Linked DNA regions of Homo sapiens: regions 1 and 3 are each reported to be linked to region 2. The links are microRNA targets in miRTarBase. Many come from high-throughput screens and were not tested one by one. Region 2 holds a microRNA gene; each other region holds the end of a gene's coding sequence.
Evidence for each region. Region 2 holds the annotated microRNA hsa-miR-30a-5p (UGUAAACAUCCUCGACUGGAAG, at 4,562-4,583, shown strand). A microRNA usually pairs through its seed, bases 2 to 8, with sites in the 3' UTR of a target mRNA and lowers its output. Matches are read on the target gene's strand: a 7mer-m8 pairs with bases 2 to 8, a 7mer-A1 pairs with bases 2 to 7 and ends in A, and an 8mer does both.

Region 1: the mRNA of ARF6 is a reported target of hsa-miR-30a-5p. The part of its 3' UTR that is shown has no 7-base or 8-base seed match.
Region 3: miRTarBase lists DHX40 as a target of hsa-miR-30a-5p. Seed matches in the 3' UTR shown: 7mer-m8 at 6,924-6,930.

The regions. Positions count from the first base shown.
Region 1 is chr14:49,891,633-49,902,555 of GRCh38, reverse strand. ARF6 (ARF GTPase 6) reads right to left here and starts at 9,474. Exons shown (of 2, transcript NM_001663.4): 1 at 9,399-9,474; 2 at 5,502-9,300. The coding sequence starts at 8,819. The coding sequence ends at 8,292. It also overlaps the pseudogene RNU6-189P. RefSeq lists enhancers at 6,253-6,402, 8,545-8,594, 8,625-8,944, 9,815-9,914 and silencers at 9,105-9,294, 9,335-9,724.
Region 2 is chr6:71,397,255-71,408,177 of GRCh38, reverse strand. MIR30A (microRNA 30a) reads left to right here and starts at 4,557; the gene lies at 4,557-4,627. LINC00472 (long intergenic non-protein coding RNA 472) reads left to right here. Exons shown (of 3, transcript NR_121614.1): 3 at 1-314. RefSeq lists an enhancer at 5,561-6,089.
Region 3 is chr17:59,604,168-59,615,090 of GRCh38, reverse strand. DHX40 (DEAH-box helicase 40) reads right to left here. Exons shown (of 18, transcript NM_024612.5): 16 at 9,907-9,976; 17 at 9,417-9,645; 18 at 6,746-8,058. The coding sequence ends at 7,919. Among named protein-coding and RNA genes, the nearest start is that of CLTC, 10 kb to the left of the region's middle.

The DNA.
Region 1 (10,923 bases), not on the chromosome of region 2:
AAAAAAAAAAAGAATTCAGATCACAATTGTTAACGCTTTCTTCCTCCACAAGTAACATATTTCACCAATTTATTTCATTTTCTCACTTCTTTCTCATTTCTCTACACTGTACTTGGCCCTCATTTTCTCAACTGAATTATCAACAAAGTCTCCTGAAAGGACTTCTTTCTTCCAACCTCTATCCATAATCTTGATACATGATTCTATACAAAGCTACTAAATACTCCTAAACACTGTGACTCTCTCCTGCTATCTATCTATCTATATGCACAGAAAGATATGTGTGTATATATATATATTTACGTATGTAAAAATTCAGTGGCTCCCATTACACACAAAACAATATCCAAACTACTTGGTAGAGTTCTTGAGGGTTCCTAAATATCTTTTTAAACTTAGACGTTTTGAATCTTACCTCCTTTCGTACCACTCAAAGTCAGATATAGGATTGTAGGTAAAATATAGGATGGCCAGTTAAATTTCAATTTAAGTTTTAGTATATAATTTATATATATAGTATATATAATTTAATATATAATTTTAGTATATTGCTTGGGATGCAGTTGTACTAAAAAAATAGTTTATCTAATTGAAATTTAACTGGGATGCTCACTTCAGCAGCACATATACTAAAATTGGAACAATACAGAGATTACATGGCCCCTGTGCAAGGATGACACAAATTCATGAAGCATTCCATATAAAACTTTTCTTAAAAGAAATCTATATATAAGTATACAAATAATCAGCTGAGTGAAAATTTTAATTTTTCCTATTTTTCACAATGATCTGTCAAATTCACTATCAAGCAGTCAAATTTGATTTTTACAGAAAAAAAAAGTTCCCTAAGTGCCTAATACTGTGTTTTCCACTGTACACAAGAGTGAAATTATACAGGGACTCAAAACTTATTGATGGCCGGGCGCGGTGGCTCACGCCTGTAATCCCAGCACTTTGGGAGGCCGAGGCGGGCGGATCATGAGTTCAGGAGATCGAGACCATACTGGCTAACACGGTGAAACCCCGTCTCTACTGAAAATACAAAAAAATTAGCCGGGCGCGGTGGCGGGCGCCTATAGTCCCAGCTACTCGGGAGGCTGAGGCAGGAGAATGGCCTGAACCCGGGAGGCGGAGCTTGCAGTTAGCCGAGATCGCGCCACTGCACTCCAGCCTGGGCGACAAAGCAAGACTCCGTCTCAATAAATAAATAAATCTTATTGATGATAAAATAAGAAAATTATAGGAAATTTACTTAAAGCCAGGTATTTATAAGAAAACATACACCAAAAAGATACTAAGAACATGAGTAAGCACTGGTTCACCTTAGTCACATTCATAGTACAGCAGAGACTACCTGAATCCAAATTCAGGCTCTGCTACTTATTAACATATACCTCTGTATGCCTCAGTTTTTTCAACTATAAAATGAGAGCCCTATCTCCCAAGGTGGCTGTGAGGATTTAGAGAATTAATACCCATTCAATGCTTAGAACAATGCCTGACACATGGCAAACATTCAGTAAATGCTAACTCTTACTATTCTTAGAATATTTCTGAGTTTGATTTCCTTAGGCCTAACTCCAACCTAGGACTTATTCATAAAACTAACTTTTAAAAATAAACACGTGGGCCGGGCGCGGTGGCTCACACCTGTAATCCCAGGACTTTGGGAGGCCAAAGTGGGTGGATCACCTGAGGTCAGGAGTTCGAGGCTAGCCTGGCCAACATGGTGAAATTCCATCTCCATTAAAAATACAAAAAAAAAAAAACAAAACCAAAAAAAAAAAACTAACCAGGTGTTGTGGTGCACCTGTGGTCCCAGCTGCTTGGGAGGCTGAGGCAGGAGAATCTCTTGAACCTGGGAGGCGGAGGTTGCAGTGAGCCGAGATCGCGCCACTGCACTCCAGCCTGGGTGACTGAGCGAGACTCCTTCTCAAATAAATAAATAAATAAACACATGGGCAGGCACGGTGGCTCACACCTATAACCCCAGCACTTTGGGAGGCCGAGGCGGGTGGATTGCCTGAGCTCAGGAGTTCGAGAACAGCCAACACGGTGAAACCCCATCGCTACTAAAAATACAAAATTAGCTGGGCGTGGTGGCGCATGCCTGTAATCCCAGCTACACGGGAGGCTGAAGCGGGACAATCACTTGAACTGAGCTGAGATGGAGCCACTGCACTCCAGCCTGGGCTACAAGAGCGAGACTCCACCTCAAAAATAAATAAATAAATAAATAAAATAAAAAATAAAGACATGCAGAGAAAGCACTTTGGTTTGCCTTATTATAACCAACTTCAAAGATCCAAATTTCTGCTCTACCACAACAATGTTTTTTTTTCCCTCTCATATGCTATAACCTTCTCAGGCTATTCAGTTGTAATGGAAAACAACTTTTATAATCATAAATAACTAGTTTCACATAGGTCTTTCTATGAACTACAAATGTTTTCATTTCTTTAAAGCTCATTTCTAAATGTCCTCAATAAAATTTACTTCCATAACTTCCGCTAGATTACTTTGTAGTAGTCTAAAATAGTTATAGGTTTCACAACTTTGTAATAGTTTAAATAGTTTAAAATATAGATTTCTCATCCTACTTGTAGAAATTATTTAGTATGATTTAGTATTAATATATAACCCTCTAGGCAAGAAATAATCCATGTGTGAAGCAAATTTTTCTAGTTTATATTGGTTAGAGGAATAATACTGGAAACCAAATATCATGCACCATAAGTTTCCACGTCAATAAAACACTTCCCCTTACAAACTTTCTCCATAAAAATAATAGACTTATGACTTAATTACAGAAAGAGTGGATAAAAAAGCCACAGTTAAACGATGTTATCTGAACCTACACCAAACTAATCTAGGTTATCTGGAAGAAAGGACACGTAACAGAGAATCACATTTAACTTAAATCCAAAGACCAGTAAAACTACCACAAAAATAAAAGAAATATTTAAAATGAAGTGACTCACACAGTTTTAAACAACTGTGTTAAAATCAAAACTGAGAAACTACTGATTTCACGCATTTAAACTCATTTAGAAAAACAAAATCCAGGTTAGACTACTCAATAACAAGTCTTAGCTCACTAAATGTATAAAATGTGGAAATTCTATGTCACTGTGCGCTAATTTTTTTTTTTTTTTTTTTTTTGGGACGGAGTCTCGCTCTGTCACCCAGGCTGGAGTGGCAGTGGCCCGCTCTCGGCTCACTGCAAGCTCCACCTCCCAGGTTCACACCATTCTGCCTCAGCCTCCCGAGTAGCTGGGACTACAGGCACACACCACCTCGCCCGGCTAATTTTTTGTATTTTTAGTAGAGATGGGGTTTCAGTGTTAGCCAGGATGGTCTCAATGTCCTGACCTCGTGATCCGCCCGCCTTGGCCTCCAAAAGTGCTGGGATTACAGGCGTGAGCCACCGCGCCCAGCCTCTGTGTCCTAAAATTTTGATTAGATTCATTTAACAATGGCCTTTCACTTTCAATTGTTCCATTTCCTATAAATTTTGATAATGTTTTAAAAATTGGCTTTACACTCGAGGTTAAATGTTTTTCCTAAGAGCCAGATAGTAAACATTTTAGGCTTTTCAGGCCATATATTGTCTGTCACATATTCGTGGTTTTTTCTTAAAAACTTTACAAATCCTTTAAAAATGTAACACCCATTCTAGCACAGTCCCTATAAAAAACAGGCTGCAGCCAGATTTGCCCTTGGCCAGTTTTCCCACCTCTGCTTTACACTGTACTATTATCTTTCTGTGACTATGTCAATTATACCAATATTAACATTTCCTCAAGTATCTGCTCAAACATCACCTCAATGAGGTCTTCTCCGAACACACCTACCTATTCCCTAATATGTGTACATACATAACATATTGTACAATATATAGCATATAACCTAACAGACTTTTACTTATCATCTGATCTTTGTTCTCTGCCCCCAACCCTCCAGGTAAGTTCCATGAATACAGATTTTTTGTTTTTTTTTTCACTGTCGATCTCCTGCACCTCAACAGTGCCAGGCATATTAGTAGGCTCTCAATAAAAAAATCTACCCTCACACTTATAAAACAAAATACTATGGACAAAATATGTATTCTATAACAAATGAAAGATATTCAAGGACAAAACTGACAAATACTTTCATTTTTAAATTCTTTCAAGTAGTCATAGAACATTTCAAATAAAGGGGGAAAAGGTTAAAATTTTTATTTTCCCACAATGTGAGGTTAGTTCTTACAGTCTAGTTCTCTTGAAATTTACCATTACTTCAGTTATATTTAATTGCAGATTTGCTTTAATTCCTAAATCCCGCTCCATTCTTGTTCTGCCTTCCTTGATCTCACCTCTGTGTTCCTTGCCTGTTCAGCTCACTAGTCTAGTCTGGCAACTTTTGTTTGGCAAAGCAACAAGTTGCTTTGCCTCTTCTATGGCTCCATCTCCCAACATTCCATTTTTGTAAACTCTCTAATACTGTAACCTTTACTAATCCTTACCATTTAATTAAAGCAAAAGGCTAGATAATATTGAATATTATACTCCAAATATATTATGTTCAGTGACTAATCACTTAAAAATTTCTTATAATTGCTGTATGTGGTTTTACAAATACAGTTTTTACCTATAAGGAAAGATACAACTTACCTTACTTGTAATCCTGATACATATTGGGCAAGGTATTGAGAAAATAACTTTTGGAATTTTGTAAGCTCCATCACCATTCAGATTATGGCTACTTCTAAGCTTATATTAAAACATAAAAACCCATTCATGGGGAAAATATTTTCTACTGCTAGCACTGAAAAATTGATACTTTGTCACAGTATCTTAACCACAGTACTAAATATATTAATAAATATTAACATGGGGTTAAATCATACTAGAGATCACATGAAGACATTCTAAAATCACACTATAAAAATTGCTGATATAGGAGGAAAGGCTTACAAGAATGTCTTTCAAACCCTTTTATCCAACAAGTTATTCATCTTTTACTTTTCTTTCTTCCAACCTTATCCTCTATGATACTATTTTACTTTCTAAATGAATACAGTTTTGCCATTTCGATAGGACAAACAATTTGACCTCTAAAAGAAACTTTGAAATCCAAAAGTCTATAAAGAATTAAGGCCTGAATTTAAGACTTAAGGCCAATTCTTTAGACACAATTCTCTACTTCTAAAAATGCTAAGGTTGTAATTTGGAAAAAACAGCAGAATAAAGACTGCTATGGGACCTCAAATTTTAAAAATTGTTTAACTGTGGTATTCTAAATTATCATACAATCAGATTAAGTTGGTGGAACTAAAACAGGGCGCATTACCTCAAACAGCCAGCATTTACAAGAACCAAATTGATTTTTTTTTCTTACAAAAGTCAGGCAACTTCCAAATTAAGTCACTTTTTACCATATACCCTGGAGAATAACATGGCCCGACACACCACACGTCCCACTTATCTAGTTCAAGCGAGTAACATAACGTGAGAAACTGCACTGTGTAATTCCTTTATTTTCTGCATATTAGTGCTTTACCAACACTACAACCATAAAGAACACAATTCCAAGTACTGTACTTTTTAGTTTGGGGAGATCACAGTCTACAGACTCATTTACTTATATTAAACAAGATTAACCTCATTCAAAACTTACTGCAGTTTATAAATTCACATAAATACAGAAATGGATGCAATTAAACAACTTCAGGATCTTATTTTTAAAATTCTTAGATAATTTTTTCTGCAGGCTATAATTACCTGCTCCAGTCACCAATGGTTATTGTTCAATTTAACTACATCAATTATAAACCTCTTATATCCTTAAAGAAAATTTTAAGTGAAAATTACAATTTCTTACCAAAAGGTTTAGGGTTTTCCAAATTTCAAATATTTGCTTCCCCCTCCCCCCTTTCCAGTCAAACATTTCAAATAAACTAAAAATAACCACATCTCACCTGCAACATTCAATAATAGCAATCACTTGATGTATAAAATTTTAACTATGCCCCCAGTTATTTTAAGACACAAAAAAATGGCTGCCTACCAATCTGTCTTCACAAGTTAGAAATACTACATTTAAGATTTAACATGAGGGTTTCAAGTTTCCTCCAGTTTAGGCATTTATACCTTTGTGCTTGTTTTGTTTCAGGATGTTACTATAGCATTGATATTGGATAACCCATATTTATATACTTTAAAATGCAATCATTTGAAACACTAAAAATTACATTTATGGTGGAGCTTTGGAAATTTTAGAAAGCAACCAGTGTTCTTAGATGTGTTTATCAGCCTCATTTCTAGAGCTCTTTCTACTAAAGTGAAACTGAGAACTTCGTACTTTAGTTGTATCCTGAAATCAAAAAAATCCCTCTGCACCAACAGGAGCCTACATGAGAATACCCTTTTGCATCTGCTTTAAGTAAAATGTTTGTTAAGAGTTTTACTTTGAATAGTTCATTTTTTTATAGTCTTACACTTCTCATACATCTTTGGTAAAAGCTCCATTATACAATATGGCCAAAGTGTGAAGGACCAATACTGTCCAACTATACCATGATATCCCGCTCAATTTTAGTTTTCAGACACCCTCATAAACAAAACCCACTCCACCTTTTCCTGTATACTGCCTTTGCAGTCTACATTTCTGAAATTCCCTATTTAATTCCTTGAGGATCACTAAAATTAATCCTTAAGGCTATATAGGAACCAGATGCTGCTTTACAATTCTGCATCAAGCATTAACATTTGGTTCAAAATATTATCATAGTGGTCGCAATCCAGTTACTGGTCCTAACCAGCTAACCAAGTAATCTTGTTAGGATCTGGATATCACCAGCGAGCACACTGCTTACACATGAAGAAAAATAAGTTTACATTCATTGTCATCTGTAGGTTCTTTCTCTTCATCCTACGTCCCCTTTAATAGTCATCCCTCAAGTCTACACATCATTCATTCATCACGCTTCCTTCCTTAAAGGAGACAGTGTACTATTGAACCAACAGGATATCTTTTTTATTATTTGCATGAGTTAATCCTACAAACAAAATTAAATACCTCTTTTATAAAACATCTTTTCCAGTGTTCTAATTGATGGAGATGCGGATCACTCATCTATAAAAAATGACTTACAGCTTCAGCTTAATCAGTTGCTATAATGTGAAAACAGGAATGTGTATTTTTTTCAACTAGGTAAAAGGTGCATATAATTTGAATTGTTAAATGTTTTATTAATGAACAAAGTAAACCTTTTAGTAATTTTTAAATTACTGGTCTTAGGTGTTTGAAACAAGGTAAAAGTATACATTCCAGTTTTGCCCAAAAGTCACTTAAAATATCTACAAATTATTTAATCTGTGTGTGGTAACACCATTATTGCTCCAATTTCTGGAAAGAGTCTATTTTCAAAGTTTAAAAAAGAGGAAAAACAGCAAAGTGGCTAACTTTGCAGTGGAAAGAAAAAGTGTCCTTCATGGGTTACACTTTCATATTTTTATGCAGCATTAAGTTATCTACGTTATGGGGAACTTGGGTTTTATTCCTACTCATGCATGATGTGTTTCAGAACTTACTTGCTGACATTTCAGAGAACTTCTTACATTACCTGTTTAACATACTGAGGTGCAACTGGAACATATTACAATATTACTCATTATTTGCCACTGTGGGCTAAGTTTACTATACTGGTCTTAGATATAAAAGGTCACATTTGAAATTACTAAGTTAGAACTCATAAGGAAGGGGGGGGAAGGCCTTAAATATAAAAGACAAACGGCAGTTTGATTAAGCAATAATTTTCAGTTTACTAGATGAAACAGACTTGCAACATAGTCTGCATGAATGCAAAATAAGCCATCTACAGCAAGTGATAAGGAAACTGGGCAAAAAAGGAAAAAAGCATACATAGGAAAATGAAAGATTCTCTCGAAATAAAAAAATCAAACTATTATTACAAAGGACTTTACCAAGAACTGCTGTGTTTCCCCCATCCCATCTGCTGGAAGTCAACAAGAGCATCTAGCAACTTTGTGTTCATGTCAAATGTCAGATCAGAGCATCCTAACGCAAAGCCAACAAAAAAAAAAAAAAAAAAAAAAGGAAAAAGAAAGGGAAACAAACAAAAGAGAAAACCCCCAAGCCCCGTCCCCGCCAAACTGTAGAACAGTAACTCCAGAGTTCAAATTCAAAAGAAGAGAAAGTGGCAATTGAAAGAGGTGATGGTGGCGATAATCCTATGAATGGGTTTTTGATTTCTCTCCTTCCAGGGGATGGGTGGAGAATGCTCATTAAGATTTGTAGTTAGAGGTTAACCATGTGAGCCCCTCATAGAGTCCGTCCCCTGAGGTGGCACAGGAGGGCTGCACATACCAGTTCCTGTCCCGAATCCGGGTCAGGCCCAGTTTCTCCTGGATCTCGTGGGGTTTCATGGCATCGGGCAGGTCCTGCTTGTTGGCGAAGATGAGGATTATGGCGTCCCTCATCTCCCGGTCATTGATAATGCGGTGCAGCTCCTGGCGAGCCTCATCGATGCGGTCGCGGTCGGCGCAGTCCACTACGAAGATGAGACCTTGGGTCCCAGTGTAGTAATGCCGCCAGAGCGGCCGGATCTTGTCCTGGCCGCCCACATCCCATACGTTGAACTTGACATTTTTGTAAGTCACCGTCTCCACGTTGAAACCCACAGTGGGAATGGTGGTCACCGACTGGCCCAGCTTCAACTTGTACAGGATTGTTGTCTTGCCGGCCGCGTCCAGGCCCAACATGAGGATCCGCATTTCCTTGTTCCCGAAGATTTTGGATAGCACCTTCCCCATCGCGTCGGAGGAGCCGGGGCCGGGGGCATTCAGGTGTCCCGGGTCCCCTCAGCCAACAACGCCGCCGCCGCCGCGAAACCGAAACGAAGCCTCTCGGCCGCGAGAGCGCCTTTGCGGCCTGCGTGGGAGTTGCCTCCTAAGGGCAGAGGCCCAGGCCCCCCGCTCACTCGGGCATCACCGACCGCACAACTTGATTTCTCCAGTCGCCGCCGCCACCCGGGCCCTGAGACTGCGCTGGGAGCCGCCGCCCTGCTGAGGCGCGGCCCGGCCCGGAACTGCCCTTCCCCCCGCAGGCGCCGCGCGAGCGCCGCCGCGGTTCCCGCTCCTCCGCCTTCCTCTCACCGCGAGGGAGACTGCAGCCCTCCGGCCCGCCCGCCGGCCTGCGAGCACTGGGCTCCCCACCGACCCAGGACACCCGAGAGGCAGCGCGGCTCCGGGGCCCCGTCAGGTCATGGATCCTCGCGGGAACTCGGTGCGCTGCCTGCAGAGAAACAGAGAGGGAGGGGAGTTACTGCCAGAGCTCCACAAAGGAGCGAAGACCGAGGTGGCCCGCCTTTCCAGCTCGGCCCAAGGGGTTACCTCCAGCCGCCGCCCCGAGCGCGGGCTCCCTCCGGCCTCCAACTCCTCCTCCCAGTTCTGCCGCCGCCGCTGCCGGAAAAGGCGCCGAGGAAACCGCCTCACTTCCCCTCCCGACCACGCAGGCGCAGCAGAGGCCGACCGTTCGGACAAGAGCGACCTCTGTAAGGAGAGCGGCCCGCGCGCCTAGCGTCATGGGCGCCACGCGCCGGAGGGGCGGGGCTACGGCGCCTCGGAGGGCTCGCAGATGCGGCCGGCCCAGAGCCCTCGAACCTCGGACTCTGACTCGCGCCTACCCGTGGCTCTTCTAGCGTCTCCTTCCCTGCTTTTCTCTTTTGCGCTCTGCCCTCCCCTGCCCACCCGAACCAAGGGAGCAGATCTACTGGGGGGCCCTACAGGGTGGGGCCCACGGGCAGCCCGCTCTCTCCACGAACCGAGCTGCCTCCAGGCCTGTTCCCAGACCTCGGTGCCCGCCAGATGCTCTGCGAATTCCCTCCGCCCGCCCCAGCCTTCCCGCACCCTCCGCGCTCCCTGAACGTCCCAGGGAAGCTCTGTTCGCTTTTGTTTTTTTTTTTTTTCCCTTTTTCGCAACCCCTTCTTGGCTTCCTTTATCCCTTGAATTTTGTATGTTTCCTGAAAGACACGTGGGAGGCCAGTGTCTCGTGTGGAATCTGCCAGTCAGTGCAGCGCTTTCCCGGAGTTGAGTTTACTCTGCAGCTCTTTTGAATGTTTGAGCCCTGTCTGCCTATAGGTCTCGTCAAGACCAGCCCATGTTTCTTAAAAACTGCAGTATTATGAAGAGTTCCTGTGCCTTGCCGCGTTTTCACCTTTTTAGAATGCGACATCTGTTCATCTTTAAAATATCATTTTATCTCATACTGTTAGTAGTAGCTTCTTAACTACTACCCATTCTTAACTTTAAGAAGCATAGAATTTAGAATATAGAACGACCGCTTGTATGGCCTGGATCTGGGCACTTAACCTTACTAAGTTTATCTCGTGTAAACTGACCTTGCTAACTCACGTGAGGCTTAAATAATACAATGTGGAAGACTTCAGGGCACATTTTTGGTTTTTTGGTTTTTGTTTGTTTCTTGAGACGGGGTCTCACTCTGTCGCCCAGGCTGGAGTCCAGTTGCACAATCTCGGCTCACTGCAGCCTCCTCATCCTGGGTTCAAGCAGTTCTGCCTTAGCCTCCGGAGCAGCTGGAATTAGGTCGCCCACCACCACGCCCGGCTAATTTTTGTATTTTTAGTAGAGACGGGGTTTCACCATGTTGGCCAGGCTGGTCTCGAAGTCCTGACCTCAGGTGATCCACCCGCCTCGGCCCCCCAAAATGCTGGGATTACAGGCGTGAGCCACTGCGCCCTGCCAAGGACACATTTTTGTATCAAATGGTTAATGATAAAATTAGACTTAAAATAACGTGAAACCTTCAAATATCAAGGGGAGAAAAACAGGAAATGGGTATCTTTGTTTAAAAAGCAAGATGCTATAAACAGCATATGGTAACATACTGTTTTTATT
Region 2 (10,923 bases):
TTTAAAATAGTGAATGAGTAGCAGATTACTTTCTAGTATTTCTTTAAGGTCACCAAAATCACTTAACTTGCTTAAAATATTGATGGAAATATCAACTACGTACAGTTGACCTAAATTAGAAATGGGTGTTTTTTAAATAGTGAAATTTATAAATATAATATGTATATTTTAAAATACAGTTTATATTATAGAGTTATGTTCCTCTGTAATAATTTCTCTTTACACTGAATCATGTTCAGTTTTTATTATGCAGATAATTTAATCTTACAGCTTTGATCTTTTTTAAAAAATAAAACAGCCATTTGGAGTCTAAATTCAGCCATGTGATTATTACAATGAAATTCATCTTAAATCTACCTAATGTCCCTTTAGATATAAGACCTATTTCAATAGAAGGGCGTTTCTTGGTTAGGGTTGCTCTTCCCGAGAGGAGTCTCCTGGAGCAGGAGCCCCTGGGGAGGAGTGAACTGAGCCAGCAGGTGGTCTAAGGGAGGTGCCAGGGAACTGCTGACAGTGACTTGCCTGAAGGAAGGGAGGGAGCAGGATGGGAGTGGGGTGGAAAGTCCCTTATTAGCCTGGAGGCTGGGATGCCCTGACCCTCTGGAATCCCCCTCCCTTGTAAGAATGCCAGCCAAAGTAGGAAGGAGGAGCTCCAGCCAGATGGGGGTCCCAGTGCAGGAGGAAGATAGTAGGGTGACCACAACCAAAAAAGCTGTCTGACAGGCTTTGAGATCTCTTGTCTGAGGAACTCCGGCATAGATAGTAAGTCAGTATTCACTTAGAGGAGAGTTTGGCAAGTGAATATATATGATGAATGAATGAGTAACTGAATGAACTGCTTTATCACCAAAGGATCTGGATATTTGTTTCTACTCTCAAACATTTTTTGATTTGTTAACTTTTTATGCCCAATTTTAAAAGAAAATGCAATTTTCATTGAACTATGATTGACTACTTCATATTTATTGAAACCCACACCCTCCAGTACTCCACAAATGATTCAGAAAAGCTTACAATAAAAAAAATCAGAATAGAAAAGTGAGTAACGGATGTGATTTCAATTCTCCAAGCCTGTTGTCCTTATCTGTGATGGTAATGATTATAGATGCCTTATCTTGCTGTGGCAGGGATGAAATGAGATCATGTGCAGGCATTATTTGTCATACAACAAATACATAGTTGAGGTTGTATTAAAATTAAGGCTTTAAACTTGAGTACATACACTTTTGCTTAATTCTCAATTTATTTTTCATTACCATTTTATCAGAGAATGATATTTAAGCGATACTCATTTCTAGAGTAGAAGAGATTTTATTCCTTATAACTGTAAACTCTATACTATCCAAGATAATACTCTTCTTCCTAGAATTTGAATTCGTTAACAATCTTTCACATTTTCACAATCCATGGGAAATCACTCCCAGTAAATGCTTACAGCATTCGTCCACTTTCATGAGGCAAGGAGTAGGTAGGTCTGTATTTGTATTAATTACAAAGAAATTCAAGGGAAGGTTCATCATTATCATCGTTAGCAGGAAATATAATGAATTAGAAGCCCTTGAATTGGACTAAAAGAGTGTGGAGTATGTGTAAAAGAATGAATCAGAGAAGGTAAAGATTAATTTTAAAGGGCAGAATTTTGTTTGTACATTTAGGTCACTTCAATTTCAGATCAGTTCTATGTATGCTTTCTAGAAAAGATATCAAAGACCACCTAGATTTCTTGCCTTTAGGTGTGTTTTACCAAAGGAACAAGACAGAAGATGAATGCCAAAACTATTAATGCAGCTACCCTGGACACTAAGCCCCCAAAGAGATGGAGGATTGGAGGATGTAGAGCCTGGGCACTGGGTCCAGTGCTGACATGGAACATGTTCATTCTTAGAGTTTCACTGCAAACACTCCAAGGATAGAGAGCGAGAAGGTTATGTGGACATGAGAGGAGAAGGGTGGAAGAGGATTGAATGGTTCAGGGTAGCTAAAAAAAATTTTTACACTTTATCTCGGGCTGCTTCTAAACCCTCCACCAGAAAGAATTAATCCTGCAAGCACTTAAAACAAAACTGATGTGAGGAAGATAATAAAACCTGTCCAGGGTACAGACATCCAGATTTGCAATTTAGGGTGGGAAGACTTTAGAGACCTTGTCTAACAGGGCTAAAGAGTATCCTTATGGTTTTAAAGTAGGTACATTGTTTTTTGTAAGCATTTCTAGGGTTATATAAGACAAATCAGAGTCTGATGTATTGAACACAATTGGATCTTATTCTGCCATATTTGTTTTTAATTCACGATTTTTAAATGGATTTACTGGTCATATTTCTCAGGTCATGGCAAGATTTTTTAGTCTTAAACTTATTTAGCTCAGTCCTTCTAGATCAATGGTTCTCTGCCCTGAAGGTGTAGCAAAATTGTTTGATAGCTTTTGCAAAATTTACATACCCAGCAGCCTCCCCATCAGCTGAATAAGAATTGCAATGTGGATGTGGCAGAGGCAATCAGGTATGTGGGGTTAGAAGAAGCTGTCCTGGTCATTCTGTTGCCACCCTCTCACTTGGAGAATTGCTGATCCAATGAATTCCTTAACATAACTTTGAAAACACAGCGTTTTGCTCAGAACTTCATGAATAAACATCAAATTTTCACTAAACAAAATAATTAAAGACCATAAGATCTTAGTTATAATACTTCATAAATGGAAAAGCACTTTATTGCCTGTATGTATGTGGGCTCCTCTTTTAGCAAGATATGAGCTAGGTGAAGTCTATGTGAAAGCTAAAGCAGATTTATTCCAGTCAGATGCCAGACAATTTTACCAGTTTAACTGAGACTCATTATTACTTAAACTACATGCTTGTTTTTTTGGTTACTGAGTAGTATAGGTCCCACTTGGATCAGCAATTCTCAAAGTGAGAGGGTGGCAATAGAATTATTTAAGTAATTATTTGTTATTTGAGGTTGTTTGCTTAGTATTTACTTGTCACTGTTTTACATGTTATTTAATAATTTACAGTTATTTAAAAGTGGTAAGATTCCAAGGCAAGTAGGGGACCTGTCACTTTGAGAAAAATTTATGGTGGTAAAAATATTTTCTTTTTGTAAAGAGTCACTGATATACAATGTCCCCCCAGGGTGTAAGCCTTGGTATTTATCTATTTTAATTAAAGAGTACTCTGCCTGTCTAGTCGTGGCTAACTTAAAAGAAGTGGGTATCTTGGTGAGAAGTTCACAAGGTTGGTAGCCATAGCTGAGTTTGGTGGATTGACTCAAGCTCTAGTCAGCAGTGGTATATGAATGCCAAGTACTAAGAATTTCTGGAATGTAGAATTGCACAGCACTGATAAAGTTTGCTTTGTTCCCCTGTGTGACTTGACCCATTGAGAAAACTGGTTCCCTAGGAAGTTTTAATAGTTCAAAGTCCTTAGTTAATAAAGAAAAAGGCCACAACATAATTCAGCTTGTTTTCACCTGCTGACTCAAAGATTAACTTTTTTAACCTTAATGGGATAGAGTTACCCTTTGCTTTGAGAAAGTAATTTATGGAGTTCTTCATATTTGTTAGTTTCAGTAAACATGATGCTTTTTGTGTGGATTTTATTTTTGTTTCGGGTTTGAGATCACAAACTACTAAGACTTACACAATTTAAGAACCTTACGGTAACTTCATCTAAAAACAAATCTCAGGGAAAGGCACACCCACTTTTCTGTATCAACTTAATCTTTCACTAGATTCAGAATGGTTTTGAATTACTTCAGGAAAGTAGTGACTGATAGAGCTTAACCTTCAGTTTTCCTCATTTATTTTCATAAGAGAATGGGAGTGGAATTCAAAACATTCAAATTTGGAGTTAATGTGCGTCACTGTTGTGAGTGATAGGTTCTGTGTTTTTCCAGTGGGAAACTTTGATCCACATACTGATATATGCCTGTGTTATACCTCGTTATTCTTTTCTGTTTTTCTCCTGATTGTTGCTTACTCTTTCAAAAATCAGCTGACTGTACAAGTCCTCTCTGGGAGCAGACTTTAGAGCAAAAGTGATCTATAAAAGCAGCATGTAAGTCTTTTTTTTTTTTGTCAGAGTTTATAACTTTCCAAGTAGACCTTTTATATTTTCACGGTAGTCTAAGTTCACTCAACTGCAGTATTTGATGTTAAATGTACGCTTTACGCTGTTAAGATAATTTAGTTTCTGTGTTTGGTCACTTTTGCTTAAAGGATTGTAATTACATAATGCATGTTGAAATCATATTAAGTAACCTGGCCACTTGCCTATTTACTTCTTGTGGCTAACAATAATGAATGAAACCATTTATATATGTTGTTTTAGTATATCACAAAATTTTATAGAAACTAGAAGCTCGGTGATGAATAATAGACATCCATGAGCCTTCTTATTTGTTTTGAATTTGAGACATTTTCTAGAATATTGCTGTTTGAATGAGGCTTCAGTACTTTACAGAATCGTTGCCTGCACATCTTGGAAACACTTGCTGGGATTACTTCTTCAGGTTAACCCAACAGAAGGCTAAAGAAGGTATATTGCTGTTGACAGTGAGCGACTGTAAACATCCTCGACTGGAAGCTGTGAAGCCACAGATGGGCTTTCAGTCGGATGTTTGCAGCTGCCTACTGCCTCGGACTTCAAGGGGCTACTTTAGGAGCAATTATCTTGTTTACTAAAACTGAATACCTTGCTATCTCTTTGATACATTTTTACAAAGCTGAATTAAAATGGTATAAATTAAATCACTTTAAAACCATGTCTGTACATTTTTAGAGGGCTTCAGCAGGGCATTGAGGAGGTGCTCTGTGTATGCATAGAATTTGCAATATCAAAAAGAAAGTATTCGTAAGAGAAATGAGGAAATGTGTTACAGTATTTTTATTTTTTTTAAAAGCGTAGTAGGGCAATATTTCCCAGAAAAATCTATGAAGTGATTTGTTTTGTCCTGCCCTTTCTGCAGTTTCAAAATAGGTGTTTTTTAGACCCATTCACAAAAAAAAAATCCATTAATGAAACCACAATTATTTGGGGGAAAAAAGTAAGATGAAGGGTTAGTTATTTTCACATTACTTGGATTAAACCCCTTTTATTTCCTTATAGGCTTAGTGTTTAAGTAATAAAGTAGCAGCTCTCAGCTTAATAAAGTGTCTAAAACAAACAAATACTGATTCAACTAACTCTATTATTTGAAAAACCTATTCTTGTTTCAGATGATTAGAATAGTATTTTAGGAATTTGTGGATACTGTTTCCATTTGGTTGAACTTTTAACTTAGCTTTATGCAATAACTCATATCTCTTAAAAATAATAAATACATCAAATTCTATCCTAAATATATGAAGACAATTTTAAGATTCAGAATCCTGTAGAAGATTTCTGTGATGGACATAATTTCTAATTTTCCTTTTTTGTAAATGCGTATTTTTCTTATGGCGGATATTTTTAATATTATACACTTAAATAGAAATATTTAAGTGTATAAGAGAAATATTTAAGTGTATAATAGAAATATTAAGGATACACTTATATAGAAACTAGACACTTTAAAAAGATATGAAAGTGATATCTTTTGTCCTCTAAAACACAGTATTTTATAAATATATAGTGTTTCCATTAATGTAAAAGAGTTTCTTTTCCCTGTTTAATACCCATTGATGATGATGATAAAGAAGTGATACTAAAACAGTATGATCATACCACTATTTAAAATAGTAGCATTTCTTCTAATACCTGGGATGGAGAGAAATATGTGTTAGAAATGTCTTTAAGTTTCCCTCATACATAAAGCTATCAAAACTCTATTAGTCATGCTGGGCCATGAGAGGTTCATCAACTGCCACTGAAATGCAAGGGGCTTGGAGAGGCCTCTGCCAGGCCCTGGGTCTGGAACTGAGAATGTGGTCTATTTTAATTGGTAAGCTGAAAACCCCTGGAGCAAATAACTCGGCTGTTTTTCTGGGGTCACCCGACCGTATTTCCTAGGTAAATGACTATAGGTTTGAAGAAATGGTTAAACTTTTCCTAAATCTTTGACCTTCACTTTCTTTAGGTTCTCTTCCTATGTTATTTTATATCCTCTTCCTTACCTTACTGCCCCTAAATTTTCCATTTTTCATTTTTATCTGTTCATTTTGTTCATGTAAATAATTAGTTATGGGAACTTTTTAATTTGTAAAAATTACAGCATTTTTAATTATTTTTAAATCAACAAATACAAACCTCCATAAGCCATTCCGGGTAGTTTCAAAATTAATACCTAGTATTTCTTATGTCTTGTGCCCCACATTTCCACAGTAATAATGTAAACTACTATTTTAAAGTAACATCAACAGTCCAGGCACGGTGGCTTACGCCTGTAATCCCAGCACTTTAGGAGGCTGAGGCAGGTGGATCACTTGAGGTCAGGAGTTTGAGATCAATCTGAACAACATGGTGAAACCCTGTCTCCATTAAAAATACAAAAATTAGCTGGGTGTGGTGGCACGTGCCTGTAATCCCAGCTACTGAGGTGGCTGAGAATTGCTTGAACCTGAGAGGGAGAGGTTGTGGTGAGCCAAAATGGTGCCACTGAACTCCAGCCTGGGCGACAGAGCGAGCCTACCATCTCAAAAAAAATATATCTATATATATATATAGATATACATATAAATAAATAAAATAACATCAACAGTGTGTTATTCATAATTGAAATAAGATCTGGATGCAATTTTTTATTTTACAAAAAAAATAACTTCTAAAGTTTACAGTATTATGTTTCTACCACTACGTGGACAGAGTTACCATGCATGTGCTTAGGTAAGATAAACTAATATTTAACATAAATTAGAAACCCTTACTAATTGCTTTCATGTGTTTTTTTTCTTACTATAATTTTTAAAATTTCACATATCAGCATAATAAAATATCTATAAACTAAAACATAAAATTCTTAAAATGGACTGTAGTAAGTCAGTTACTGAAAATAAAACACTGTCAAAATGTGTTAGTTAAATGTAATGTGAGTGTTGCTATAAAGTTAGTAATGTTTAAAAAATAGCACCACACTGAGTAATCATCAAAAGTATTATACATTTAGTTTTTATTCATGATTTGCCAAAATAAAAATTGGCACATGCTTGAAAGGGAGATTTCTAAAGGAAGTTAAGAGCTTCTGAAAGTGTCAGTGGTGAATGATTTAAGTGATACTTATTTTTCCTGACCTTAAAACTCTGATTTGAACTTGCACTCCATTTTACAATGATGTTGTCTATAAATATTACACATGTATGAAGCCTTTCCTCTACTACAGAATAACTAAAACCAGACCAGAGGACTGTGGAGGCAAGGGAAATGCATTTGAAGGCCGTCTGCATGGGAATTAGTTACCTAGACCTGAGAAACCCCTTTCTATTTAGATTCCTCTCAGAATTGCTCTGTTTTCTTTTACTAGAATTTTAGCTAAACATTACCATTCAAGGGGAAAACAATCTTTCCTGAGTGGTATCAATTTTTGGTAGCTTAATAACACTAATTCAAAATTGCCCGTTATTTTTCTGTATCAGAAGAGTAACAGGAAGTTAATTGTTTATCTTAATTTTGGAAGCACCTTACTGAAATTTTAAAGGTGGTGCTTAGTGAACTGTCTTAACAATCTCACTAAAATAATACAGAAGACTTTCTTCATGTGGTTCTATATCATAAGAAGTATTCTGTATAGATATGGAAGATAAATTTCCTAGTGCGTACTGTAGTTGTTTTTGTGCACTGCCAAACAAATACATAATGAAGCTGTTAAATCATTTGAGATTGAGGGTTTTTATGATTATTATTTTTCCTCCTCATTTTTACACCTCCTAATGGCCAGTAAGTAAAATGCAAAAAAGTATCCTCTGATTATGTTTATTATTAGAAATAATAGTCAGTGAATTAAATATTCTTTAATAGACTTCTGTTGTAATGTGCGGAGAAGTGTCTCGCTAATGTACACTTCTAAAATCTCAATATGAATGTGATGGGCAAGTTAATGTTGCCAAGCAAGTGATGCTAAATCTGCCTTTCCTAATTTGTATACCTCATTATTATATAACCTTAATAATGCAGTACTTTCAGGGTAGAGGCTTTTTGATGCAAATTAAAACAAAGTAGGTTGGGGATTCATTTAGCACAAACACTAAATGTGAACTTACTGTCCCCACAGACTTCAGTGCCCTGAATGGTTAGAGAAATTAATGAAGGAGCTCCATCGGGTGCCTTTACAACTCTTAGTAATATGAGAATCTTTCCACAGCTCTCATTTCAAAAATGATAACATGAGATTTCAGGATGTGAAGTAACATATTAGCAAGTGTGTTAGAAAATATAAAATATTTTACAGTATGATAACATATCATCAGCTTGTTATTCTTAATGTGTTTCCTTGTAGGGCCTGACTACCATTTCTGAATTTTGGAATTTGGTATTTTTTAGTAAACGTTTGAAAAGATGAAATGCTTATACCAATAGCCTGTCAGTGAAGGAAAATTTATGTAAAAGCTAAAGAAATGCAGTTAAATATAAAATAAATATCTTAATGCCGTAAAACAGTAGCATTTGCAGTCATAATTCCCACAGTCAGTAACAATATATTTATTTTCAAGATGTGTGATGTTAATGCAATAAAAACATTGTTGCCCTATTTGAATGAAGATTTATTTGCACTGAGTATAACCCTGCAGAAATGAGTCAGAGAATTGGTAAAATTTGCAAATCCAAACATTCAACTTTGAGTGTTCATGTTTTGTGCATAATAGATCTAAGCGCATATCAAAGAAGTGATTTTGCTAAATTTATTACTCTTTAATCATGTTAGATTAAAATTATCTTTAGAATTACAATCTTTAAACTATGTAATGCCCACCTAGAAAATTTAATTTTCAAACGTTTGTTCTTTTTTATATGCTTTCAATGGTTTTCTTGGCCATATCAGCTATATAGTTGTCTTTCTGCAATTCTCATTCTACTCTTATACCCCAGTGAATCTATGTTTGGCTTAAAATAAATTTAGATGGTCAGATACTGAGTAAGAAATTAGGAAATCCACACACTGTTAATTCATAAAAACAATAATGTTCATTGAAATAATTAACCTTTCTGCACTTTAGTTTCTAGTTTGATTTTATTGATTTCTTATAATTTGACCTAAAATCTCTGTGTAATAAAAAATAAATCATCATGAGTTATTAGAAATTCTAAAATTTTAAGACTAATTAAAAAGTAAAATTCAGTTTATGAAAATGCAATTTACTGAGAGGTAATTTCTCTGTTCTTTTTGTATAGAATAGAATCTATTCAGGTTGTTGGTACACATGTAATTCTTATTGACTATGTGTGATATGCTAATAGCTAATTAAAACTACTTTCATTCAGTTTACCACCTGAGACAACAGAAAGACTAGTGCTGGAGAAGTTAGGGTTAAGTTTAGAGTTAGAAAACAAGCTCTCAAGGACTTGTAAGAGCAGTCCCATCCCCTGAATCTCAGGATATGGCAGCTCACTTTGACTGAAGGAAATTTTAAAGTCCTAGGGTGACTAACACTTTTCTAGCACTGTTGATTTTCTAGATTAGACAAGAATAAGAGAATACCAATGAAGGCAGGATGATTTTTTTTCTTTATTCTATTTTATTTATTTATTTATTTATTTATTTTTTTGAGACAGAGTCTCACTCTGTTGCCCAGGCTGGAGTATAGTGACACGATCCCGGCTCACTGCAAGCTCTGCCTCCCAGGTTCAAGCAATTCTCCTGCCTCAGCCTCCTGAGTAGCTGGGACTACAGGCGTGCGGCACCACACCTGGCTAATTTTTGTATTTTTAGTAGAGACGAGGTTTCACTATTTTGGCCAGGCTGGTCTCGAACTCCTGACTTCGTGATCCGCCCACCTTGGCCTCCCAAAGTGCTGGTATTACAGGTATGAGCCACTGCACCCGGCCGATTTTTCTTTCTTTCTTATGAAGAATGAGTAATCTGTAACTCAGTTTTATATATTACTTTAGGGCTAATGTGTGTAAGTCCTATACTGCCCCTCTTGTAGAGCTTATTCTAAAGGGGTCTTTGTAATCTGATGTATGCCCCACCTACTGCTGTCCCCCAACACTGACCACTGACTTCCAATTGTTCAGACAACCTTGTTCTTTTCCTTCGTATCTCAAAATCTTTGCCTCATCTCTTCCCTCTGCATAGATTGAGTGCTCTTATTTTATTCACCTCTACCCCCAAACACATATACCCATACATACGCATACACATACATGCACATTAATACTTTAGGTCTCAATCCAATTTTCATTTCCTCAGGGGAATAATTCCCTCATTCCCTTGTCTTCATCCTATGGGCTCCTTCTTTGTCCTGAGACAGAAGTCATGAGGAGGAGCCAACCATGTGCAATTTTGGGGAAAAAACATTCAGGCAGAGGCAACAGCAAGTGCAGATGACCAGAGGTATCAGATCAAGTAAAAGTTATGAAGTATTCTGGTACAAAATCAGCAAAACAGAGTCAGAGGTAAGCAAAGGCCAGGTATTGTAAAGCCTTGTAGGTCATAGTGACGTTTGAAATTTACTAGTAGGCATTAGACTAGTATTTGTTATTATGAAATGTTCTTTAAATTTTGAATTTAGTTTAGTTAAATAATAGTACCTCTATCATTGTGACTGACCCTACCAGAATGTTAGTAACATTTAAAAAATAAAAAGGTCTCCAGCCTGGGCAACAGAGTGAGACCCTCTCTCAAAATAAATAAATAAACAAATAAAAGGGTGAACAACAGCTTACTTCAATAAATATTGAATGCCTGTTTGTATAAAGAATGGTGTTAGATGCTGAAAGATGCAAAGTTGAAAAAACCTTGATCCCTGTGGTTACACGTAAGAGTGCAAATATGATGGTATGTGGACCAGAGCCC
Region 3 (10,923 bases), not on the chromosome of region 2:
CTCTAGGGATAGTTCTGCCAGTAGCAGTGTACATCTGCAGCCTTGTTAATGGTAGTAAACTCTCACTTCTTCGCAACAGAATAGCTAAGGACTGAGATTTGGTAAAGTTTTGGTTAACTCAATAATAAAGTTTTAAGGAATAATTAATTTCTTCAACAAATATTTTCCAGTACCTGCAATGTAAAATTAAATACTCAATGTTAAATTATTTTGTAAAGCCTTTTTTGAAAAAAAAAAATTGATATAGGGAAAGCAGTTCTGAACCTTAAAGGCCTCAGATTCATCAAAGTGAACAGTTGTTGTATAGTACTCCTGCAAATGTAACCTAATCTGAGTAGTACCAAACCTAGGCAATACTAGGAATTACTTTTTTTAAAATGCCATACCTCATCCTGTCATGACTACTAAAAGTAGATTACTATGTAAATCAAACAAAATACCTGGTTATTTTCTTTTCCTGGTTGCTCATATTCCAAATAACTATGAGTTTAATGTTGTATAGTATAAAATCCATACAATTACTTTTCATTCCACAACACTGCAGTGATGAAAAGTATGCAGCATTCATATAAGCCTACCTTAGATTTATTGATATAAATTGTTTTTCTTTTCCGAGTCAACCTTTAAACCTAAAAGTTTAAAGAGTCATGAAAAGGTCTCCTTAGGTTAACTCCACCAACCAGTCAAATATGTAGTCCTCCATTATCCACAAGGGATATATTCCAAGACCTCTACAGAGGATGCCTGAAACCACAGCTAATACTGAACCCCATACAGTATACACTATGTTTTTTCTATACATATATACCTATGATAAAGTTTAACTTATAAATTAGGCACAGTACGATATTAACAATGAAAATAGGACAATTATAACAATGTACTATAATAAAAGTTATATGTGAATGTGGTCTCTCAAAATATCATTGTAGTTACCTATTTTTGGACATAGTTGAACACAGGTAACTGAAACATCAGAAAATGAAACCTCAGATAATAAGGGACTACAATATAAAGCATTCTACATGCATGGTGAAAATAAAAACTAATGATGAAGACAGCTGTTACAGTCTATTTTAGTTACTATATAGTTGACCCATCAGATCAGATGGAGAGATAAGATTATACTCATTACTGAGGAAGGCTTAAACATTCCATTATTAATTTATTAAAAAAATTTAACCTTTGCACAGAAGTGATAAAAATTCCATTTTTAAAAAAGGAACTAAATGAAGTAGCAGACACGTACACAATGGCACATGATAAAAGGAAAATCCCGGCCCAAGCTACTTTAAAATTTTTCTATCTGTAGGAATGAGTGACACTCAAATTATTCTCCATTTGACTTACTAGTGTTAACCCAAGATACAGAATGGACATTGCAAAACCCTTCCAAAAAATCCTTCTCAAAGTGACACCAAAACCTTTCCATTGTTTACATCTGGTTCCTCTCCCCAACCCCACAAATTGTCTTTTTGTTTCAGTGCAGGTCCTACTCTTCCCTCAAAGACTCAGCTTAAAATCCATTTATCGGCAAGGCACGGTGCCTCACGCCTATAATCCCAGCACTTTGGGAAGCCGAGGTGGGTGGATCACTTGAGGTCAGGAGTTCAAGACCATCCTGGCCAACACGGTGAAACCCCGCCTCTGCTAAAAATACAAAAATTAGCTGGGTGTGATGGCGGGCGCCTGTAGTCCCAGCTACTCAGGAGGCTAAGCCAGGAGAATTGCTTGAACCGGGGAGGCGGAAGTTGCAGTGAGCCAAGATGGCGTCATTGCACTCCAGCTTGGGCAACAGAGTGAGGCTCTGTCTCAAAAAAAAAAAAAAATTCAATTTACCTTACTTCTCCAGCTATTAAAGCATTTATTGATTACATGACCCATTTAATTTGAAGCCTAGGCTACTTTATGTTGTTAGTAATCGCATCTGGAGTTGGCACAATCATTTATAAATACCTCCCATATACAAAGCACCAAACTGGGTGCTAGGCTGTATTTTGGGTTCACTCATCTCATTTCCTGTATTTTAGCTGAGAACCAAGTAATAATATTAATAGGTGGGAAAAATATGTGGATTTTATCTGGACAAAGAATGTGACTAATCATTGTCGTTTTTTTCTGAGACAGAGTCTTGCTCCGTTGCCCAAGCTGGAGTGCAGTGGTGCGATCTCGGCTCACTGCAACCTCCACCTCATGGGTTCAAGCGATTCTCCTGCCCCAGCCTCCTGAGTAGCTAGGATTACAGGCACGTACCACTGCACTCAGTTAATTTTTTGTATCTTTAGTAGAGACGGGGTTTCACCATGTTGGCCAGGCTGGTCTGGAGCTCCTGACCTCGTGATCCGCCCACCTCGGCCTCCCAAAGTGCTGGGATTACAGGTGTGAGCTACCATGCCCAGCTGTGACTAATCATTTTCTTTGAAAAATCTTTAACAGCTTCACAAGGGAATTTTGTATTATTCATGTATTAAGTTTAAAGGAACAGCTAACAAGTAATAAGGATTACTTTAAAAATCTTTGGGTGATTAAAGATTACTATTTAAATTTATTGATTCCTTGATATTATGTTTAGTCTCATCAACTCTGCTATGAAGAAAAAGTAAAAGCCAGAAAAATCTGACATTTCATTAAGACCTCTTCTTGCAAATGAAGTGATCATTTAAGTTAGAATGGGAATATTAAAAAGTAGCTTTTCTAGATTCAAATACAAGTGGTAAAAAACTGAAACTGGTGGGCGTGGTGGCTCACACCTGTAATCCCAGCACTTTGGGAGGCCAAGGCAGGCGGATCACTTGAGGTCAGAAGTTTGAGACCAGCCTGGCCAACATGGGAAACCCCATCTCTACTAAAAATACAAAAATTAGCTGGGTGTGGTGGCACGTGCCTGTAATCCCAGCTACTCAGGACACTGAGGCGGGAGAATCATTTGAACCTGGGAGGCGGAGGTTGCAGTGAGCCGAGATCATGCCACTGCGCTCCAGCCTGGGCGACAGAGTAAGACTCCATCTCAAAGAAAAAAAACCTGAAATCAAAACAATAATCCAGTCATTCCTTAGTATCAGCTGGGGTTTGGTTCCAGGACTTCCCCCTGAGGATACCAAAATCTGGTTGATGCTGAAGTTTCTCATATAAAATGGGTAGTGTCTGCATATATGCACATTTTCCTGCATACTTTACATCATATCTAGATTATTTATAATATCTAATACAATGTAAATAGTTGTTATACTCTTTTTTTCTTTATCTTTCATTATTGTATTATTTTTATTGGATTTTCTTTGGAATATTTGAAATCTGTGGTTGGTTGAATCTGTGGTTGTGGAACCCCAGATACTGAGCCCCCAGATACAGGGGGCTGACTGTATTTGCTGACATGTGAAATTTGAATTTCATTCTCCATAGTTTTATTGGAACAAAGTGATATTCATTCATGTACTGTCTGTTGTTGCTTTCATACTACAACATCAGAGTAGCTGCAACAGAAATTACATGTCCAGAAAGCCTAAAATATTTACTATCTGGCTTATCAAATTCAAATCAGATAATTTTATTATTCCCTACAGTTTGAACACATGGAAAAAGCATTAAATATCTAAATATGTAAATTAAGATAATGAGGCACCTTTTTGTCAATAATTAGAAGACTGAGGAACTATGAGGTGTAGTAAGACTGGCATTTTCATATATTGCTGGTTGGAATATGAACTGGTTCATCTGTTCTGCTAAATAGGAGTACACATCAGGAATCTCAGAAATCACTTTCACTGCTGTAGGATTCAACAGTAAGAACATATCACAATTTATTAAACCTTTTCCCTACTGATATAGCTATATATATATGTGCTGTTTTCAGATTTCTATTAGCAACAATGGTGTATTTCACATTGTAATGAATGCTGTATTTAACATTTTTAATGTATTTATCATCAGCAATTAACGCTAAATCTATAGGAGTCCAATTTTATGAGGCACAGAATATTGTATATAGTCTGAGAGTTCCTAGTCTAGAGAAACCCCTAAGTCTAAATGTGGACTTACTGGGTCCACCCTAAGTAAACAAAACTAGTATCACCAATAAGCGGCAAATGCCATGTACCTCCAGATGTGATACGCTAGTCAAAGACCACCTACGTCTAGAGGTGGACTTACTAGGTATCAGGTTGTACACAGCTTCAACTTTACTAGATATTGCCAAAATGTTCTCTAAAATAAGAGCTGGCCTGGGCATGGTGGCTCACGTCTGTAATCCCAGGATTTTGGTAGGCCAAGGCAAGAGGATCATTTGAGCCCAGGAGTTCGAGACCCAGCCTAAGCAACATAGTGACACCCCATATATACAAAAAATGAATTTTAAAACAACCAGTCGGGTGTGTTGGCACACACCTGTACTCTCAGCTACTCAGGAGACTAAGGTGGGAGGACTGCTTGAGCCTAGATCAAAGAAGTAGTGAGCCATGATCATGCTGTACTCCAGCCTGGGCAACAGAACTGTATGAAAAATTAATTAATTAAATAAAAGCAATTTATTCTTCACCACCAACACTTTTCAGGAGTATTAATTATTGCTAATCTGATGGAAATGAATGCCGTCTCCCTAATTACAAGTTAGGTTCATTGTCTTTTATTTACTGACCCTTCCTCCTGTTTCCCCTTTTATAAAAGGACCGACCATGTCCTTTGCCCATTTTTCTATTATAACATTTGTCAGCTGGATGCAGTGGCTCATGTCTGTAATCCCAACACTTTGGGAGGCCGAGGTGGGCAGATCACGAGGTCAGGAGTTCAAGACCAGCCTGGTGAAACCCCGTCTCTACTAAAAACACAAAAAAATTAGCCAGGCGTGGTGGTACGCACCTGTAATCCCAGCTACTCGGGAGGCCGAGGCAGGAGAACTGCTTGAACCCGGCAGGCCGAGGTTGTGGTGAGCCGAGATCGCACCATTGTACTCCAGCCTGGGCAACAAGAGCAAAACTCCGTCTCAAAAAAAAATTTGTTTTTGATTCTGTTTTGTTTCATTTAGTAACTTGAAGGTGTATTCCCATTCTTCTAAGAACAAACTCCTCCATAAAACCCACCTTTCCTGCAAGGCTGCTTCCATGTTCTTGCCTTAACTAGATCCAGCATTCCCTTGATACTACTGCTCTCACAGTCCTCTCAATGCAAACTGAGATACAGAAATTTTTTATCAATAACACTATCACAATTATCCCAAAACTGTAATGATGTCCTTCCCTTCTAACAAATCCATAAAATAATTCCAAATTCTATAGATTGGTTTACAAAGCCTTCTGTAATCTGACCTTAACAGTTTGAGCCACCTACTCTCCTATATATATTCTATGCACCAAGTAAACTCAACTGTTTGCCACCATCTCAAACACCCCCTGGGCTTTCTATAAATACTTCTCTGTCTTGATCCATGCTCTTCTTAGCACCCACCCGTTTATCAGACATTCATCCTTCAAGGAAAACTCTTCCTTACAATATAATACCAACAAATATAGAAAAGAATTAGAAAAAAAAATCACCATTTTGCAGCCATAAGAATAAAATGGATTCAGGCAAGAATCATCAATTGATGGTAAATACAAAATGTCATATTTTATGAGGAACGAGATATTTTATATAATGTCAAAGTATCTCTCCCTCAAATTATTTATGAATTATAAGGATAACCAGGTTGATATAATTTAAAAAGCACCCTAATAAGTAATTAACATTAATAACACCAGCAAGGGGAAAATGCCATGTACCTCCAGACGTGATACCATGACACTATTACTTATGCAGTATTCCAGTTAAAAATGCATAACCATGAAGAAACATTGGAGAAACCCAAATTGAGAACATTCTATAAAATAACTAGCTTATATTATTTTAAAATGTTAATGTTGTGAAAGACAAGGACTGAGGACTTTTTCCAGATTAAGAGACTAAATACAATACGTGATCCTAGACTAAATCTTGAACTACAGAAAAATGCCATAAAGGACATTACTGAAACAACAGATATAATTTGAGTGTGAGGTGTAGATTCAGAATATATGCTTAATATTTACTAAACTAGAAGAGCTCTCATTCCAAGAATCCACACACTCCCACCACATCTGAGGATATGCCCTTATACAATACACCTGAGAAGAGAAACTGACAGAACTAAATGATTAATATGTGCTAATAACAGTGTCTAGAGCACTAAAGATAAAAATGAACAAATTAGGCCAGGCGCGGTGACTCACGCCTGTAATCCCAGCACTCTGGGAGGCAGAGGCGGGCGCATCATGAGGTCAGGAGATCAAGACCATCCTGGCTAACACGGTGAAACCCCGTCTCTACTAAAAAATACAAAAAATTAGCCAGGCATAGTGGTGGATGCCTGTAGTCCCAGCTACTCGGGAGGCTGAGGCAGGAGAATGGCGTGAACCTGGGAGGCGGAGCTTGCAGTGAGCCAAGATCATGCCACCGTACTCCAGCCTGGGCGACAAAGTGAGACTCCGTCTCAAAAAAAAAAAAAAAAAAATTAACAAATTAAAACACTGGAAAGGTTTAGAGAAACCATCATCACTCACCTTACTTTAGGGACAAATACATGAATTTGGGTCCTTGTGATTTTTGATAAAGATTTCAAGTTTCTATTATTGAACATAAAACTAGATTCCAAAGGAAATAACTAGAAGAGTTACCGATAAAAAATTTAGATTCTTAATTTTTACACAAAATATCTAAAAACACACATTATACTGTCTTTTGAATTTTAATGACACTAATAGCTTTATTTAACAAACACTGAGTGACTACTATGTGCAAAGCACTATGCTAGGTGCATGAAAGATACAAAGATGAAAAAAGACACAGTCCCTGCCCACAAGGAGCGTATAATCTAGTGAGGGAGACAAATACACAAATAACTAGAATACAAGGCAGTAAACAAGAGTGGGCAAGTGCTGAGTGTGGCCTGAGTGTGATACTAACTAGCCTCAAGGTTCCAATTTGAAACACGATGAAATAGTGTTGTCTGCTTCGAAAATCCCATCCCAAGTTTGGCATAATGGAAGTTAAATGGCCCTACCCAAACAGGTGGAAATAACAGAGTAGGCCAGGTGGAGGCGCTGTTTGAAAGTACTATCACACCTACATACATGGTGCTGATATAAGTACGTAGGTACAGCTAAAAAAGAACTTATATATATATATATATCATATATATATATATCATCTGTCCTTTGGTTAATGGCTATAGCTACTGTTTTAAACAATATACTTTTATATAAAAAGGAATTTGTATAATCCCAGAAAAATCAATTTAAGGATTAATATTAATTCAAGAAAGAATCCTGCCATAGGCAATTTTATTTACTAATTGATTAAGTCTTTTCTCTAAATATCTATAAAGCTCTGTAGCAATTAAACAGTTAGACATCTAAGTATTGCTGAGTAGAAACCTCTTATGTTCAGCCTTCTGAAATAAATGGTCACATACCTGATATATAGCACTATTCTAACAGCAACAAGAAGGCCTTAAAGAGATTTTAAGAAAAATAATTTTTAATGCTTCAATGCAAATGGAGTACACGCTGATTAAATACAACTCAATGTTCTTTGAAAACATCTCAATGACAGCGTTTGATACCAGTTAAGGCCAGCAAAATTGTACTGAGGAAAATATTATTACATGTACTGTCTTTCATTGGTTTCATGTATCATTGCTTATGACTATGGCAACCAAATCTTTTCTTTGACAACTGCATTTATGGGAACTGATGAGCTTTGATTTATGAGCTTTGATTTGCTTTTAGTTCATAGGCCAATAACAAGTGCTGACCACCTCCTCTTGGTAGTGCTGTCTGAAATAACTGGCAAAGTAGAAGCACATTTCCTGGCTCCTTTTCCCACTTCCTGAATTGGAGGGTTCACCACCTTAGCCTGTTTCCTTTCGTGTGTCACTGTGGTCCTGGGTCCTCTGCTGCTTTCTCTCAAGGAAACGAGCCCGTGCATCAGATATGGATTTGTCATCATTTCTTCTTTGCATTTTCTTTAAGACGTCTTTCGATATTCCATCTGAAAACATTACAAATTAATCCAATAAAACTTAGCTTTGAGATTCAGTACTAGAAATGTTAAGAGAAAGAGAAGCCCTGATTTTTCAGTGTTAACAAAGTAAAAACAATAAAGAGAAAAATTAAATTTTGCCCTTTCAAAAGCAATGTAGTCTATGGTTACAAAATTAAGAGCACCAAGGCCAATGAGTCAGAAAAACTGACCCTAATTCAAGCATGTGGCAGTGTTATTACACTGTAATAGAACACCTAGTGGCTAAGATTTCTTTTCTTTTTTTTTTTTTTTTTGAGACGGAGTCTCACTCTGTCGCCCAGGCTGGAGTGCAGTGGCGCAATCTCGGCTCACTGCAAGCTCTGCCTCCTGGGTTCACGCCATTCTCCTGCCTCAGCCTCCCGAGTAGCTGGGACTACAGGCGCCCGCCACCACACCCAGCTAGTTTTTTGTATATTTAGTAGAGACGGGGTTTCACCGTGTTAGCCAGGATGGTCTCGATCTCCTGACCTCGTGATCCGCCCGCCTTGGTCTCCCAAAGTGCTGGGATTACAGGCGTGAGCCACCATGCCTGGCCTCCCTAGTGGCTAACATTTCTAAAGATTTTTCTATGATTTATTCGGCAAAACTCTTCACCATTCCATTTTGCAGTGATGTCAAATAAAGAAAATACAATATGCTTCATCATTCAGCCTCAAAAAGCTTTACTAAGAAGTTTTCTGTGTATGTGAGCTGAAAAACTTTCTGTCCTATTTCAGTACCACAACTATTTATGCCTCCCAACCAGGGTCCTAATTATTTCATAGAAAAAGCCCCTTGGATATACAAACTTAGCCAGGCGTGGTGGTGCATGCCTGTAATCCAGCTACTCAGGAGGCTGAGGCAGGAGAATAGCTTGAACCGGGAGGCAGAGGCTGCAGTGAGCCAAAATCACACCATTACACTCCAGCCTGGGCAATAAGAGCAAAACTCCGTCTCAAAGAAGAAAGAAAAAGAAAGAAAGAAAGAAAAAGCCCCTTGGAAACAAAGGGGATTCTGAGTTAATAATGCATAAATCATCACTTTTTTTTTTTTAGAGATAGTGTCTCACTCTGTCACCCCCAGGCTGGAGTGCACTGGTGAAATCACAGTTCACTGCAGCCTCAAACTCCTGGGTTCAAGCGATCCTCCTGCATCAGCCTCCCAAGTCACTGGGACTACAGGTGCACACCAACATGCCTGGCTAATTTTTATTTTTATTTTGCTAGAGATGGGATCTCACCACATTGCCCAGGTGGGTCACAACATTTTTATAAACAAAAATAGTGAAGTACTACTGGGAAGCAGTATGGCATAGTGGTTAAGAGTAGAACAAATGATTTACTCACCCTTTAGCTGCTTTACATTTTCCTTATTTGTCCATCTCCTTCTTGCATCTTCTCTCACTTCACGTCGGGCCACACTGCTCAAATCATGTGCATTAAATTCATGCAACTTGGGTAACAAGTCTCTTACCCATTCATAACGGATTGGGCATACAATTCTTGCGTAGACTTTGGTGGTAACCAATACCTCATGAAAAATGATCCATTCAAGTTTGGTTTCCTGTTCATGAAGCTATACAAAACATTTCTTTTAATGATGGTAACTCAATAACCTGCCCTATTCCACATTAAACCAACCAAATAGTCCAAATCCTTCTCAATTAATTCCTATCTTCTTCAAACAGGAGGCACAGGCCAACCAATACCCTTATAGATCTATGTAATATAGATATATGTAAATTTAACTCCAAAGTGAAAAGTAGAAGACATTTGTATATTACTTATTTCTACAACTTTACAAATTTCTTCCCTTTATTAAAAATGAAGTACTTACTGCTGAGGAAGGATGAATGTGAACTGGGCTTCCACGACCATCCATTGTGCAAAACGTTCTCCCAACAGATCTATAAACAGAAAAACAAAATGATAAAGACTACAACAGTAAAGCAATGAAGTAAATGGAGCATTACATTCAGCAATGAACAATTACAATATGTTCTACTACAAACAGCATTATAAGCAGAGGTTTACATTTATTCAACTGTCACTACAAGCTCTCTACCAATTCATCTTAAATTAATTATACAGGTTAAACAGTCACTACAATTAGGTATAAGTCACTACAATTAGGTATAAGGAATCAGTACAAATATTAACAATAATCTATGAGCTTTGAGAGCCAGGAACTTTATTAAAAAGTCAAAACTAAAATTCAAATAAATTAGCTAGACTTCTCAAGATCACCAGCGCTAACGCATGGTAAAACCAAGTCCTAAACAGTTCTTCTGACTTAAATATGGTTTCTTTATGTTATACTATGCTGCATCTCTTTTTAAAGGGATGATTTTTTCACTACTCTAAAACTTGACAATTAATCTATCATTTTTCCGATTCATGCCCTTATTTTCTTCTACATTACCCTACCTAAATGTCATTCCAAAAAACTTGTCAAAAAAATAAACCTAGTTCATTTGTCATAATTTATTTCCTATAGTACTTTGTATATATTCATAGTATAACCCAGATCAGACTGCACTGTAATTATTCACTTACATATCTGTACCCTCCATTAGACTCAGGTATCATCAAGAATGATGTAAGGACTCATGTTACTCTACTTTTCTATTTTTAGTACCTGCCCAGTGTTTGGCATACAGAGGGTAACCAAGATATACCATATTTTTAAAAGTGTGAAACAATCTAAATTTACAGAAAAGTTGAGAGTAAAAAAATTTTTACCTGAATCATTTGACAGCAAACTGCCAACCTAATACCCCATCATCCTCAAATACTCGACTGTGCACTTCTTACAATCAACAATCAAGAACATTCTCCGACATGACTATAACCA